Homo sapiens: one gene and its partner. The protein of the gene in region 1 interacts with the protein of each later gene in a pairwise test. Each region holds a gene or a part of one and is shown in the gene's direction. Other genes may lie near its edges.

Region 1 (9,256 bases):
GAAGCCTAGCAGCAGTATCCTACTCAAACACAAACCACCAAAAAAAAAACAAAAAAAAAACAAAACCTCCTTGGGGACTCAGATGTGAACCTCTCATGGAAAATTCAGTACCATGTGCTTTTTGTAGCAGGTAGGATCACCTGCTGTTTTGGAAATTAACTTTTTTTCTGACATCTTTTTGACCGAACTCTGCATGTGCCTCTTGAGAAAATAATCCAAATTCTTGCTTTCTTCACTTTCCAGTTTTGCTTTATCTTTGCATCATGCTCTGCAGTTTACAGACAAGCATAATGGGTGAGAGTTCCAGTAAATTGGCTGGATCATATTTCTTAGATTGAGTCATGACTGAGGAACTTGTTTGGGAACAGGAAGCAGCCCATGAAAATGGCTGCACATAGTAACCTGCCAGATTGAAGAAACCGGACCACTTTCTAGTGGAAAGATAAAAGGGCAGAAAAATGGTTCTATAACTCAGGGAATGGTAAATTTGTGAACTAGGGTTTTAACTTGTTGAATAATACGTCTTTGTGTGTATTTGGGCTTTTTTATGCTGTTAAAAGTCTCTAGTTATTCAAGATAAGGGAAAGGAAAACTTGGATTCGTGGTAACTGTTGCTACCTCTTAAATGTCTCTGCTGATGTATACAACATGTTGCTAGGCCAGTTATTTTTTTTAAGGCACTGTAGTTACATAGAAATAAACCTGGCAACATTTACACTTGGCCTCGATAGGCTGTAAGGCCCCTTTTGTCTCCAGTATTCTGTGTTTCTGTATTTTAATCACCTACTTTACACTTACTGTAGCAACACAATCAAGATAGCAAATCAGTCTAATAAAACCAAAAGTACTGGAATGTGGGAAATAGAAAGAATGACCTAGAATTCTTGCTGAGAAAACAATTGGTATTGCTATATTCTTGTAATGCAGTGTGAGAGAAGCCAGAGAAGTAAATAGGCAGATACATATCTATGAAATGTAATTAGTCATCAGCAAGATGTATTTTAAAAACACATCTGCTTGGTGTCATTTTGCTTTATCTAATAAGGATTACGACTGCAAGGCAGAGATTTGTAAATGAAGGAGATCTCTGTTGTTTTTGTTTTGTTTTTGCTTTTGTTTTGTTTTAAGACAGGGCTGGAGGGCAGTACATGATCATGGCTCACTGCAACCTTCATCTCCTGGGCTCAAGTGATCCTCCCACATCAGTTTCCCAAGTAGCTGGGACTACAGCAGTGTCTCACCATGTCTGGCTAATTTTTAAATTTTTTTGTAGAGTTGAGGCCTGTGTTGCCCAGGCTGGTCTCAAACTCCTGGGCTCAAGTGATTCTCACACCTCAGCCTCCCAAAGAGCTGGGATTACAGGTGTGAGCCACCGTGCCTGGCTGTTATTTTATCAATTCCTCAAAATTCAAGCATGCCCTCAAATATTTTTGCAGCCTCATATAGCTCTTAATTTGGTTTATATTCATCCAGATGGTAGGATATGATTCATGTTCCACCTGGTTTTCTTCAGAAATACTTAGACAGTGTCTATGGAAAAAAACATTGAACCAGATTTAGCTTTTAGGTAAATAATATAATCACCTGGGAATAATATGAAGAATGAAATGAAAGAAAGAAAAATATAATCAAGTGTAACTTAGACTCTGAATGCTGGTAACTAAGATTTGGATGAAGGAAGGATCTCAGGGGAATAACATTAAAATAAGATTTTTTTTAAATGGAAATACATGATTTTAAGAAGGAATAACTTAAGACATTCCAACTTTATACTACATGAAAGTAAAAAGATCAAGGATCAGTTTTCTCTTTGGAGCAAGGCTCAGTTTCGCTTTCTGTTGAGAGTTAGTAGTGTGTATAATTAATTTTTTTTAACAGTTTATTGATGAAATTTATTTTTAGAAGGAAATCTCCCACCACCTTCCTGTCATTCTCAGGGCAAGATAGAGGGTAGGAGAGGGAAGGGAGACTCGGGGGAATGGGAGGTGCAAGCCTTAATTAGACATTTGAGTGTCTAAAAGATTACTTTTCATTTCAAATACTTTGTCTCAGTTTACTGAATAGCTTTAATTTAGGACAGGGATTGTATTATCTTTGCTTTATCTTTTCCAATATTTTGGATCATCTAAGCATGATAGATGCTGGTTTATTCAAGGCACTAAAATTGACTTGCAAAAGACATATTTAATATGGATTCTGTGTTCAAGTCCTTTCTTCTTTGTTTATCCTGGTACAAAGATGTTTGTTTTAAAGTGGTATGAGTTAATTGTCCAACTTCAGATTTCCCTAAAATGTGTAACAGATTACCCAGTTGGCAAATGATGATATATATTTTTTAAACATGAATATTTCTGTTAGGCCAGATGGTGATTTAACATGAATTGTCCAACATTTGTGTTTCTTATCAAATTGTCTTCTTTTGTCTAAGCCAAGCTAGCAACATAATTTGGAACACACTCAGGAATCACTAAAGGACAAGAGCAAAAAAAATTCAGACACCAAGTGGCAGACGGCATTTGCTCCATATGCCATGCAAAGGCTCCTGGCCAGTGCTCGCATGGCCCTTGGGAAGCTTTCTCACCCGTTGTAAGAAAGTATCTGTGCAGTGCTGTGCAACCCATCTACCTGCTTTCCTCTCTCTACCCAAACCCTACTTATCTAACACTTTGTACTGTGGCCTTCCTCCATGGGGGACTTGCACTTCCTCAAAGCCCTGGATTTCTGTGCAGAAGAGCAGTTTTAGTTCTTCCTTAGGCACTTCCCTTTCCTCCTGTCCAGTGTCATGTTCTTGTTTGTTATGGGCTCCACCCAGACGATTATTTCCTCTTAGATGATGTGTGAGCCTTGCAGAGAGCTGGGTCATTTGTGGAATAAATCATGTGCCCAGTCACACGGCTCCTTACAGGAAATGGTTGGTGCATATTAGCTTAGCACAAAATACAGTAGTGAGCTTGTGGTCCCCAACAGTGAGTCTTCAGTTAACTTCTGCTGTTTTTTTTTTTTTTTTTTTAACATAAAGCTTTGAATGTTTCATACAGTATCAAATCTCTGCAGGATTTTGCCTGCTGAAACAGATGTGAAAATCTGAGTAGCACAGAGTATGACATTAAGGCCATAACAATAAACCTATTGTTGCTGCATTCTAAATTTGATCAAGATGTCTGTTTTTGGGAATCCAAAATAGTTGCTTCAAATTTAGCTTTTTTCTTTTATGAAGCAGTTTTGTTTTGTTTTGTTTTGAGACCTCTCATAGCAAGAAAAAACATTACATAAACTTTTTTTTGAGACAAGGTCTCACTTTGTTACCCAGGCTGGAGTGCAGTGGCACGATCTTGGCTCACTGCAGCCTCGACCTCCTGGGCTCAAGCAGTCCTCCCACCTTAGTCCCCCACGTAGCTGGGACTACAGGCACATGCCACCACGCCCGGCTAATTTTTGTATTTTTAGTAGAGACAGGGTTTCACCATGTTGCCCAGGCTGGTCTCGAACTCCTGAGCACAAGCGATCTGCCCGCCTCGGCCTCCCAAAGTGCTAAGATTATAGGCGTGAGCCACCATGCCTGGCCACATAAATATAAACTTAAAAATACACAGGAAAACCTTTCAGAACACTTTGAAACCTATTTTGGTCCTATTACGATTGCACTGAATGTCCCCCAGCCTAATGAAGAGCAATTAGATGTCATTTGGTGGCATTCTTGGTGGAGACAGTAAGCTAGGGCCGCAGGAGCTGCTTAGTCTCCCAGGGTCCAGCATTGTTTCAGGTAACGTGAACAGGATGCTCAAGAGCTAGTCTAAATAATGCTTCATGTCTTATTTTTCCTGTTTGTTGATAAGGATTCATAAAGATGTCTTTTTCTGGTCATGTCAAGGGAAATTCAAATAAAAAACATTGAATTGGTTTGGAGCTGTCCATTGAAGGGTACTCACAGCAGGAATTGAGTGGCAATTGAATGTGTGTGTGTGTATGTTTGTAAACATTTATATTAGAGTGTATGCAAATGTATATGGGCGTGCCCACTGCCATCACCATTACCCCCACCAACAGTAACAAAACCACCATCAAGAGCAATATCCACTAAAACTTCTAATTTGCTTATTAATTTGCTTTATTATTTGTAAATAATTCAGAATCTCTGAGATCAAAATCCTTTTTTATTACAACATGTTAATAGTAGTCTAATTCAGACCTGCCCTGAGGAAGAACCAAGCAATGAAGCTGTCCATGATTTTAGAAGTTAATTGGCTCATTCTTTCTGACCATCTAGGTAGTCCCAACATTATTTTAGGCTCCCCCTAGTTAGGTCCACAACCTCATTATTATCCATTGGCCTGGACTTTGGTCTCGCTTATACAGCAAGTAGTAGAGCCTATCACTGTCAACATGTAAACATTTGCATATTTTACATTTATAGAGAGATACTTTTCACGTGCCTCATTTGATCCACTAACATCTGTATGCTTGGGTAGGATGGAATAATTAAACAATGTATAGCTAAAGCCATCCAAACCCCTCAAATATTATCATCTGATGGGAAGGAAAAGGGGGGGAAAGGAAATTAAATAGTTATTTCAATTCTTGGCATGATTGACACTGACAATTATAAATTCCATTCAATATTTTCTTCCAGCTCATGAGGGTTGGTTGTAAGGATACTTTGCAAGTCAGATTTATGAGCAGAAGATGTTTGCAACCTAAATTGCTTCAGTTGCATGAAAAAGTCACAACCTTTTACTGATTTTTATCCTGGGATCTCCTTAACAAGAAAAAACCTCAGGCCCAGGAAGTCTAGGGTGAGGCAGGGATGTGTCAAAGTACACTTTTCCCCACGTACAGGGACAAGTATTTGAGTTTCTTTGATTGACTTTGCAAAGAGCTTTGCACACTTTGCACATCACTTCTTGAGATGGGTGGGAACATGGACTGCCTATTTTACAGAGTTCAATTAAGATCGCAGGATCATGCATTCCTTTCATTTTTGGTGCTAGTACCTAGAAGATGGGAACATATTGAACACTTAATACCTTGCTTGGGCAGATAGCTCCAGTTTGCAGAAAGTCTAGACAGGATACCCTGCTATGTATCTAGATTTACTGAGAAGAAGCGGCCCAAGCTAATCAGAATTTTAAAGTAGGTTTCTCAGCTGGGCGTGGTGGCTCACACCTGTAATCCCAGCACTTTGGGAGGCCGAGGCAGGCAGATCACTTGAGGTCAGGGGTTCGAGACCAGCCTGGCCAACATGGCGAAATCCTGTCTCTACTAAAAATAGAAAAATTAGCCGGGCATGGTGGCACGCACCTGTAATCCCAGCTATTCAGGAGGCTGAGGTGAGAGAACTGCTTGAACCCTGGAGGCGGAAGTTGCAGTGAGCTGAGATTGTGCCACTGCACTCCAGCCTGGGCGACAGAGCGAGACTCCGTCTCAAAAAAAAATAAAATAAAGTAGGTTTCTCTATACCTTTGAATTTTCTGTCTCCCATGATAACCTTTGGGTAAACATGTCCATCAGAATGGAAACAAATCATTTTTTAAAATAGAAATTATTCTCATACCTATTTTAGTGGGAATCCCCCTGAGAAGATAGCCATGTATAGTCGACTGAATGCTCTGTGGTTGCTATTTTGTTGCTCTTGGCCAGGAAACTGATCTAGGTGACCTACAGACTTAATCTGACCTGCAGACTGGCCGCTTCATACTACCAAGATTCCAAAGCCAAGTGTATATACAGTCGGCCCATGCAGCCTCTGGTTCCATGATGCAACCAATGGCAGATTGGTTCAAAAATATTTGGAAAAAGGCCAAGCACAGTGGAGTGGTTCATGCCTGTAATCCTAGCACTTTGGGAAGCTGAGGCAGGAAAATCAATGGAGCCCGGGAATTCAAGACCAGCCTGGGCAAAATGGCAAGACGCCATCTCTACAAAAAGTAATTAGCTGGGCTTGGTGGCATGTGCCTGTAGTCCCAGCTACTTGGGAGGCTGAGGTGGGAGGATCACTTGAGCCCAGGTGAAGGCTGCAGTGAGCCATGATTGCATCACCACACTCCAGCCTGGGTGACAGAGTGAGACCCTATCTCAAAATGAGTAAATAAATAATAAAATTTCAAAAGGAAAAAAGTGGAAAAAAAACCCGAAAAAATAACAATACACACATAAAATACAGTATAACAACTATTTACACAGCATTTACACTTTACTAGGTATTGTAAGTAATCCAGGGATGAGTTAAAGTATATAAAGGGATATGCATAGGTTATTTGCAGCAAATGCCATGCCATTTTATAATAGTGTAGGCTCATGGCTAATAAAGCATGAACCCGACTGAAGCTGCCTGGGTATGTGTCTTTGTTCAGCCACTTTCTGGTAGTATCTTTTTTCTTAACCTCAGTATTCTTATACTGTATAACAGGAATGTTTTCTCTGTATAAGGCTGTTTTGAGGAATAGTTTCTATATGTAAAGTACTTAGAACAGTGCATAGCATATAGGAAGCCCTTAATAGATACTGGCTTAAAGATAATTAGGTATGTCCTAGTGAGGTATACCTAACTACAAGTGCTACTTTAACTATGCCTACTTTGTGTGCTTTACAATATATATTGTTCAAGGCTAGAATAATGAGCCCCATGAGCAGGGTTTCATAGCATTTAAGATTCCAACGCCAACCTTCAATCATGGACACAGGTGGCCTGTGCCATCTAGCTAGCTGCGCTGCCTCCAGGCTGGGTGGCCTGCTCCTCTGTTGGATAAAAATAGCCTGACTCCTCACTGAAACAACCACCATGTTATTTGCGTCCTTGGGAAGCTGAAAGTAATAGAACTCTAAGTCTGGCGTTGCCAGCTGTCAGCAGAATGAAATGCAAAGTGTGACGTGTCTACACTGTACCCACTGGCCTTCAAGTCCCAACTCCCGTTCCCCCATCTTGATTTTTTTCCATTCTCAAATTAATTATTTCCCCTATAGGTGATTTGTGGAATGGAAACAGATTTAGATTTCCTACCTATTTAGATTTTTCCAAAGACTAAAATTACAAATCAGAAAAACTGCTATTGACACATTTTTGGTTAGGAAAATCTGGATGTGGTTCCTATGCCTAGCCTAGTCATATAAATTCTCTCCCCATGTATCTTTTTGTGTGTGTGAAACAGGGTCTTGTCACCCAAGCTGGAGTGCAGTGGTACAATCACAGCTCACCATGGCCTTGACTTCCTGGGCTCAAGCAATCCTCTCACTTCAGTCTCCCTAATAGTTGGGACTACAGGCTCGTATCACCACGTGCAACTAATTTGTTTTGATTTTGGGTAGAAACAGGTGTCACTATGGTGCCCAGGCTAGTAACTCCTGTGCTCCAGCAATCCTCCTGCCTTGGCCTCCCAAACTCCTGGGATTACAGGCCTGAGTCACCAAGCTCAGCCTCTCCTCATCAAAACCATTCCCTCTTTGTAAGATTCTTCCTATGTCTTAAAACTTAATACCTTTAATCCTTCCCTGGAGCCATAGTTTTATTTATTTATTTATTTATTTATGAGACAGGGTCTCACTTTGTTGCCCGGGCTGGAGTGCAGTGACACGATCATAGCTCACTGCTGCCATGACCTCCTGGACTGAAGTGATCCTCCTACCTCAGCCTCCTGAGTAGCTGGGACCACAGGTGTGCGCCACCACACCAGTTGTTGTTGTTGTTGTTTGTTTTTGTTTTGGTAGAAACAGGGTCTCTCCATGTTGCCCAGGCTGGTCGCGAACTCCTGGGCTCAAGCAATCCACCTGCCTCAGCCTCCCAAAGTGCTGGGCTTGTAGGCGTGAGCCACCGCACCTGTCCCTGTCTGCTTTTATTTTATTTTTTTTTGAGATGGAGTCTTGCTCTGTTGCCCAGGCTGGAGTGCAGTGGTGCGATCTCAGCTGACTGCAACCTCTGCCTCCCAGGTTCAAGCCGATTCTCCTGCCTCAGCCTCCTGAGTAGCTGGGATTACAGGCACGTACCACCACACCCGGCTGATTTTTGTATTTTTAGTAGAGACGTGGTTTCACCATGTTGGCCAGGCTGATCTCGAACTCCAGACCTCAGGTGATCCACCCACCTTGGCCTCCCAAAGTGCTGGGATTACAGGCATATAGGTAAGCCACAGAGATAAGAGTAGCAAGCAGTGATGGGGAGAAGATAATCTAGTGTAGGAAAGATGGAAAGAATGGTGATATTTCACAACTGCTAGATTGACACTTTAACTTGAGAGTTATCCCTCTATAAACTGGATATTTGCTGAGCAAAGTTTAAAGAAAACTCCATGTATTCAGTAATGTTTTCCAGACCCCACTTCTCTTATATAAGCCAGTGGCTTAGAGTGCTTGCTCTAATTTCTATATTCCATTAAACAAGGGTGGGATTTCTTCTCATTCAAACCATTTGTGACTTTGCCCTTTAGTGACCTCTACCATCACCCTATCATTAATGATCCAAGTGATTAGAATGGATGGCTATGTGTTTGTAGGTTGTTTGTTGTCTTTAATGAATAGATTCATTGAATGGAATTAACTGTGCTCTTCTAGAACATTGGATCTGTGTTCTCATTTAGATTGTATTTGTAATCTCCCCACTTCCCACCATCAACAGTGGCATAATGTGAATTAATTTATGTGGTATCTGTCATTTAAAAAACATGAGCTCTCTCCTTCCTTTTTTTGTCTTAAACATAGGACATGGATTTGATTGACATACTTTGGAGGCAAGATATAGATCTTGGAGTAAGTCGAGAAGTATTTGACTTCAGTCAGCGACGGAAAGAGTATGAGCTGGAAAAACAGAAAAAACTTGAAAAGGAAAGACAAGAACAACTCCAAAAGGAGCAAGAGAAAGCCTTTTTCGCTCAGTTACAACTAGATGAAGAGACAGGTGAATTTCTCCCAATTCAGCCAGCCCAGCACATCCAGTCAGAAACCAGTGGATCTGCCAACTACTCCCAGGTACAGAGTACTCAGTTCTTGGGAAAGTTATGGCAGGTTTAAGGAAACACTGAGCAAGGAATTAAAATATCTGGATTTGAGTTCCAGCTTTGCCTTTCTTTTACTTAACCTTGTCAAATCTACTTTCCAACCTCAGCCTCCTGATGAGTTCAGTACCTAACCTGAGTTCAGTACCCAACCTATTGATCTTAACAGTGTTATTGTGAGGATTGGGAAGACTTAAGTTACACCAAAGAGTTTTGTAAAGTATAGAAACATCCTGTAAGGATCAAGTAGCAGCAACAGAAGTAGTAGCAGGAGA
Region 2 (7,000 bases), on another chromosome or scaffold:
CTTTGTGTATTTGTTACTTACATATCTGGTCTATCTCTCTAAGCACTTATCAGCCTACTTACATATATGCTGTATCTCTCTAAACACTTAATCACCCTTTAGATATGGTTACTACATTGTGTTACATAATGTCTGTAGAATACAGCAAATTCTGAGAAAATAATTGCTTTTTGATTTGGATCTTATGATGACATCTATTTCATGGGAAGTCTTCAGAAAGAAGTATGGACCAGTGAATTTAACTTAATCCAGTATATCCAAAATACCATGCAACATCTAATTTGTGTAAAATAATTGAGACGTTTCATATTATTCCTTTCATACGTTCAAAATCCAGTTTGTATTTTACGGTTATGGCATACCTCCACTTGGACTAGCTGCATTTCAAGTGCTTAATAGCCACATGTGGTTAGTGGCTACCTTATTGGAACAGCCCATGTACAGAGTATAGCATTTAGGGAGAGGTAATTGTAGCATATTATGATCTAACAGTTTATTTGATTAGAAATGATGAAGAATACAGAGTCCTAGAGTTTAGTTTAATTTGATCTCTAACTTTGTGTATGACCTTGGGGAAAATCGCTTAGTCTTATGGTTCTTTCATCTGTAAAACTAGAGGTACTTGACATCTGCTTCATGAGTGTTGTGAAGATTAATAGGTAATGTTAGGAAGATGCCTGGCAATTCTCTGAGCGTTTTATCACCTTCAGCTTTTCTTTTTGGGGGAGGGAAGGGATTTAACAAGATTCAGTATAATTGATTCTCTTACTCCCTTATTTTCAGTGGCTGTTTTTTCTCTCTGCTTGTATAACTTGTTACATTGAACAAGTAATAGGGAAAGGTTTTAATACAGAGACATGTAGCTGCTCATTGAAGGGCAGTTTAGGCACACCAAATTAGTGATCCTTTTAAAGTTGTAATTTCTGAGTGTTAGAGTTGAAAGTTATTCATAGATTTCAATCTGATATTTGTTCCTACCTCTCTCTACCATTCTGACTCCTCTAAAATGTGGTCATGTTAAGTTTCTTGAAACACAAACGCACCAAAGAAGGCATATGTTCAGTATCCATTTAAAATAATTATCAGGAACTATCAGATGATATTCACCATGGCGTGGCTGCTTCTTACAGTGTTGTAGAAGATCCCCAGTCTTAGTTTGAGAATAGTAACCATAGAAAAGAGGGTATATACAGTGCAACACAGGAAATGGGTAGTGACCAAACTTGAAATAAAAAACTTGTCAGGATAAAGTAAATTAAGCTCATATAATTTATGTTTTTTAAAGTAGAGGGGAATTTTCTTGTAGATTTCCTAATAAACCTGCATACTTTTTATGAAAGTTCTGAGTGTCTAGGTTCAAATAGAGCATAAAATATAACTAGATCTTTTAAAAACACAACTTTAAGAAAACAACTTACCCTAAATATAAAAGAATATTAAAATGCTACATAATTAGAAACTTGTGATTATCCACACAAACATAAAATATGAAGTCAGCTTGAACTTTAAAAAAAGGTGCTTGGTTGGCAAGAGTTTAATAAATTGATCAGCTGTTTTGTTGTTTTGAAAGAGCCTCAGTGATTTGTTAAAGTGTACAGAGTGAAAAGCATTGTTAAGGTATTAAGTCTTGTTAACTTTTAGAGACTGATCTCTCTCACCACAAATCTTGGAACATATTTACTATACTTAAAATAACTACTGTCTAATTTTTCACATAATAGTCCAAGCATGTGACAATATGAAATATCTGATAGAAATATAGTTAGGAATTAAATGACTGTTTCTGTACTTCTTGCCAACTTTCCTGGTTTACAAGGTAGCCAGTTTGAGAATTGCTTCATTGATAGTTTTCCTGGAGATACCAAGATGCCCTTATTTTTCGTAGTCACTAAGTATGTCAAATGAATGTACAAGATTGGGAAGAATTGTAGGAGTGATTTAGATTTCAAAGAATGAAGCTACTTTAGAAAAAAAAATGCAAAGGTAGTTTTTAAACATTGATTTCTAATACCTGATAGTGGTTGTGGGTCCTTAAAATATTTTTAAATGTTTTCTGGAGTAGCATTCATCTATTTGAGGCCTATAATGATGAATGAAACAAGAGCATGTCATCAGATTTAACCTTGATCTCTGATTTTGGTACTTACTCGCTGATTTAGTTTTGGAACAGAAAAGAGGAATATGACTGAAGGGAACTTTCTGAGCACCTACTGTATATGCTTTTAACTGTATTCACATTTCTCTCAATCTTATACATATTGAATTTATTTTAAAGAAGAAATTTTAAAGAAGAAACTCTTGTGCTTTTGATTTAATAAGATAACATTTAAGGGAATGATTTTAATTCAGGTGTGTCAGAGTCTGTTCTTTTTGTACTTTACCATATTTCCTCCATTTGACTTCTTTCAGCCTTAATGCCAGTCTCAAATTTGATGAAAAGGTTCTATGTGAAAGCACTGAGCATAGTCCACGGGGTATAATAGGTATTCAGTAAATGTTTTCTTTTTTTCTCAGAGGGTTTTTGGAAATTGTGGGTCACTTGTAGACTTTCAAACACTAGAAAACACAGTTTGTTTTCTGTGCTTTTCATTTAGGTTTGGTAAAAGACAGGGTTGGAGTTCTTCCTTTTTCTGTGGTTAATATGAGAACTGTATATTGATATCTATAAAATAAGGACATTTTTCAAAACCAAAAATACATAATGAGAAGAATGGCCATGTTGAACCTTTTTTTCGGGTCTTAATGTTTGGCTTAAGACAGCTGAATTCTCATCTGTTTCTGCATTCAGTCTTTTGTGATACACTGTTTTGGTCGAAGTGTGTGAAGAATGTCCACCTTCACACAGACAGACAGTTGAAAAAGGAAAGTATGTTATGTTTTCATAGGCTTTTCAGGATAATTATGGAGATTAAGTGATACTACACCGTAATTCTGCAAGAGGTAGTTTCTTAAAGATAGTTGCAATGTAGAATCTGAAGCCACATGAGTGAACTTTTCTTACACTGTTACATTAAAATCTATTGGTCTGTCTTGCACTTCAGATGTAACATTTACCCATCTTTTACTGATGCTTTTTGTAATACCATGCATTGGATTATTTGGAAAACATTATGTCACTGAGTTATGCACGTCTTCCAAATGCTAACATATTTTATTCAATAAAAAATTCATGATTGTTAACCACACAATTCAGAAAAATCTTAAGTATTGAGAATCTGTCAGGTTCACAGAAGTGGATACAAGTTTTCTAAAATTCTAACTTTCTCTGGGAAGCTCAATTTTTTTTTCTTTTTTTACCATGCCTCTGGGACAAGTTCAGAGGAAGCTGAAATTTTATCATTAGCAATAAATGCTATAAATGGTTATCGTTGAAGCCATAGACTCACTTTGCTCATTTTTGTGAAAACATCTTCCAACCATTAAGTCTGAATAACCATAATTTGTCTGTCAGTCGTTTTTTCAAGTAAAAATAGTGTTCCATGAAAAAAGTGGCTAGGTCAGTTCACAACTCAGTTGCACAAGTACTTTTTCCTTGAGACAGTCGTCCTTAAGTAGAAGTTGGTATGCAGCAGAAGTGGCTTATATGTAATCTTCATTTTTTTCACACAATTAGAAAAGGCCAATATTTAATAAAAGTAATCATTTTTTACTGTTTCCTCAAGGAATTCTTAAGTGAGCTGACTTTTAAACAAATTTTAGATGTGAAATCAGTGACAACTATTGCATCTTGATGTCATTACCTTAATTCATTCTAAAGCACCAGCAGTCTTACCCCTATGGCATCAATTCAAGTGTTAATACAATTTTTTTTTTAAAAAAAGTATTAGTATTATCATTAGGAAAATAGTTTTGACCCTGTGTACTCTCTGTAAAGGTCTCAGGACCCACATAGGGGCCCGTGGACCATGCTTTGAGTGCCACTCTTTTAGTTTACCATTGCTTCTTTTGCACATGAGTGTCACTTTTAATTAATACAGGCTCTTAAAGGACCTTATAGTATAGGGGTTAAAAGACATGGACTGTAGAGTCACTTAGGTCTGGGTTTGAACTCTGGTTTCTCCACTTAGTAATTATGGAGGCTAACTTAATTATGTCTAAGCCTTTGAAATGTTTAACAATGCCTAGCATAAAGTACATGCAGAGTAAATGGAACCTCTTACTATTTCTGCCAACTTACATAGTCATACATTGCATCCAAGTAAACCCCTATGTTCCATATCAGAATAACATTTTGCTTACAAAATTCCTCTTGTACCTCTGTGTGCCATAATCCAAACCACATCATACAAATTTGGGAAGGCTTCTTATTCCCCTTATTTAACAGTCACCTGAAAACCTACTTTCTCCCACATACTTCAGCCAAATTGTCACATACATACTAGTTTATGACTTCATTTCTTTAATCCTATGTTTTAAGTGGGTTACTAAATGCTTTATGTAGATTTTGTCACTGTTTTCTCAAAACATTGTAAATATAATCAGAAAACAACTATAATTCACACTATTTAGTACCCAGAATGAAAATGATTTAAGGTCATAGATATTTGTTGGTAATACAAGATTAAGTTGATTATTAAAGATGCTAAACTTTCCCAGGCACAGTGGCTCATGCCTGTAATCCTATTGCTTTGAGAGGCTGAGGCAGGAGGATTGCTTGATACTGGGAGTTTGAGACCATCCTAGGCAATATGGTGAGACCTTGTCTCTACAAAAAAATAAAAATAAAAAATTTAGCTGGATGTGGTGGCACACACCTGTAGTCATACCTATTTAGGAGGCTGAGGCAGGAGGATCGCTTGAGCCCAGAAAGTGGAGGCTGCAATGAACTATGACCATGCCACTGCACTCCAGCCTGGGTGACAAGAATGAGGTCTCATCTCAGATAGATAGAAATTTTTAAATGCTGACTTATTTTCTATTACTGTTTATTTACTATTCGGACAAAATTTAGTCACCTGTCATTTTTTCCCTAAATTTTTATTTACTTTAAACTTAATGTAAATTAGATTTTAACTAATGATGTATTTTGACAAACATGGAATTTCATGAATTTTTTTACTAACAAAAGTCGGAATCCTAAGATAGTATGTTTTTTACTAGTTCAGTGATGGACATATTGTCTAATATTAGAAGGTAAATCATAGTCTATCTCAGTGTCCTGTTCTTTAATAAAAACTTTAGTTTGCACATATCTACTCTTTATGTTTTTTAAAGTATGTCTTTCTGGACCCTTGAGGTAAGTGTTACATAAATTTATTTAGTTGAGTAGTTTTATCCCGAAAGACCTATGTTAAGTGGTCTCTGCTTGGTTGTATTAAATGGCCCTGTCCTGTTTGCCACCTGTTCTTCCTCTTCACACTGGCTTTTTAGCCACTTTAAGCTGTTACTGGTCCAGAAAAACAAGCAAGATAATACCTTAAGGTTTTCAAATAATTGTTAACATCACTCCTTGTTCTTTAGTAGGTGTGAAACCCAAATATTCTCCAGCTCTTTTTAAAATAGTGCAGAGGATTTGGTTCCTTGAGGCCGGGAGTTTGAGACCATCCTAGGCAGTATAGTGAGACCTCATCTCTACAAAAAATAAAAAATTTAGCTGGGTGTGGTGGCACACACCTATAGTCCTACCTATTTAGGGTAGGTTTGGTTCCTTATTTCACTTTTGAATATTATGTGGAGATGTTCATTTTACTACAGATATATCTATAGAATTGGGTTCATTGTTGATCAGCTGTTTCAGACACCTTAAATTTGTTCACGTTTTTTCTCTTAATGTTGTGAATAATTTTTCCCAATTCCCTTTTTATTCTCCAGCTTTAAAACAATGACAGTACAGGTTGAGCGTCCAAATCCAAAAATCTGAAATCCACAATGCTCCAAAATCTGAAACTTTAAGCACCTACGTGATGCTTAAAGGAAACACTCATTGGAGCATACCAGATTTTGGATTAGGGATGCTCAGTCTCTAAGTATTATGCAAACATTCTAAAATCCAAAAAAATCCAAAATCTGAAACACTTGTGTTCCCAAGCATTTCACATAAGGGATACTCAATGATGAAAAGTTTAATTAAGACCAATAAACAAATAAAAAATAGGATCCGCCTCATTAGTCATTAGGGAAACACAGCTCTAAAGCATGATGAGATACCACTTTACACCCACTAGGATGGCAGTATATAAAAAGAAAATAACAGGTGTTGGTGAGGATGTGGAGAAAGTGGAACCCTCATACATGCCTGATGGGAATGTAAAATGGTACGGCTGCTTTGGAATGCAGTTTGGCAGTTCCTCAAAAAGTTAAACAGTTAACATGTGACCCAGCAGTTCTACTAATTAGATATAAATCCAGGAGAATTGCAAACATAATGTCTGCACAAAAACTTGTAAATGAGTGTTCATAGCAGCATTATCCATAACAGCCAAAAGAGGGAAACAACTTGGCTGGGCGCAGTGGCTCACGCCTGTAATCCCAAGCACTTTGGGAGGCCAAGGCGGGCCGGATCACCTGAGGTTGGGAGTTGGGAAACCAGCACTACCAACATGGAGAAACCCCGTCTCTACTAAAAATACAAAATTAGCCAGGCATGGTGGCGCATGCCTGTGATCCCAGCTACCTGGGAGGCTGAGGCAGGAGAATCACTTGAACCCAGGAGGTGGAGGTTGCAGTGAGCTGAGATCGGGCCATTACACTCCAGCCTGGGCAACAAAAGCAAAACTCCTTCTCAAAAATAATAAATAAATATAAATAATTTAAATAAATAAAATAAAAGAAGGAAACAACCCAAATACCCATTAACTGATGAATGCACAAAGTATGGTATATGCATACAATGGAGTATTGTTCCGCTATAAAATGAAGTATAATAGTTCACCCTTATCTGCAGTTTTAGTTACCTGCAGTCAACTGTGATCAGAAACTAGGTGAATATGTGATACAACAAGATATTAATATTTAGAGAGAAAGAGATCCCACATTCACATGACTTTTCTTACAATATATT

What was found. Proteins that work in one complex are often made in the same cells at the same time.
Region 2: the proteins of NFE2L2 (region 1) and KPNA4 interact in binary tests that used the Homo sapiens proteins (3 or more experiments, as listed by UniProt).

What each region holds. Positions count from the first base shown.
Region 1 is NC_000002.12:177,233,704-177,242,959, reverse strand, and holds part of NFE2L2 (nuclear factor erythroid 2-related factor 2), read left to right. Parts: intron 1-8,688; coding exon 8,689-8,955; intron 8,956-9,256.
Region 2 is NC_000003.12:160,555,572-160,562,571, reverse strand, and holds part of KPNA4 (importin subunit alpha-3), read left to right. Parts: intron 1-7,000. UniProt on the Homo sapiens protein: Functions in nuclear protein import as an adapter protein for nuclear receptor KPNB1. Binds specifically and directly to substrates containing either a simple or bipartite NLS motif.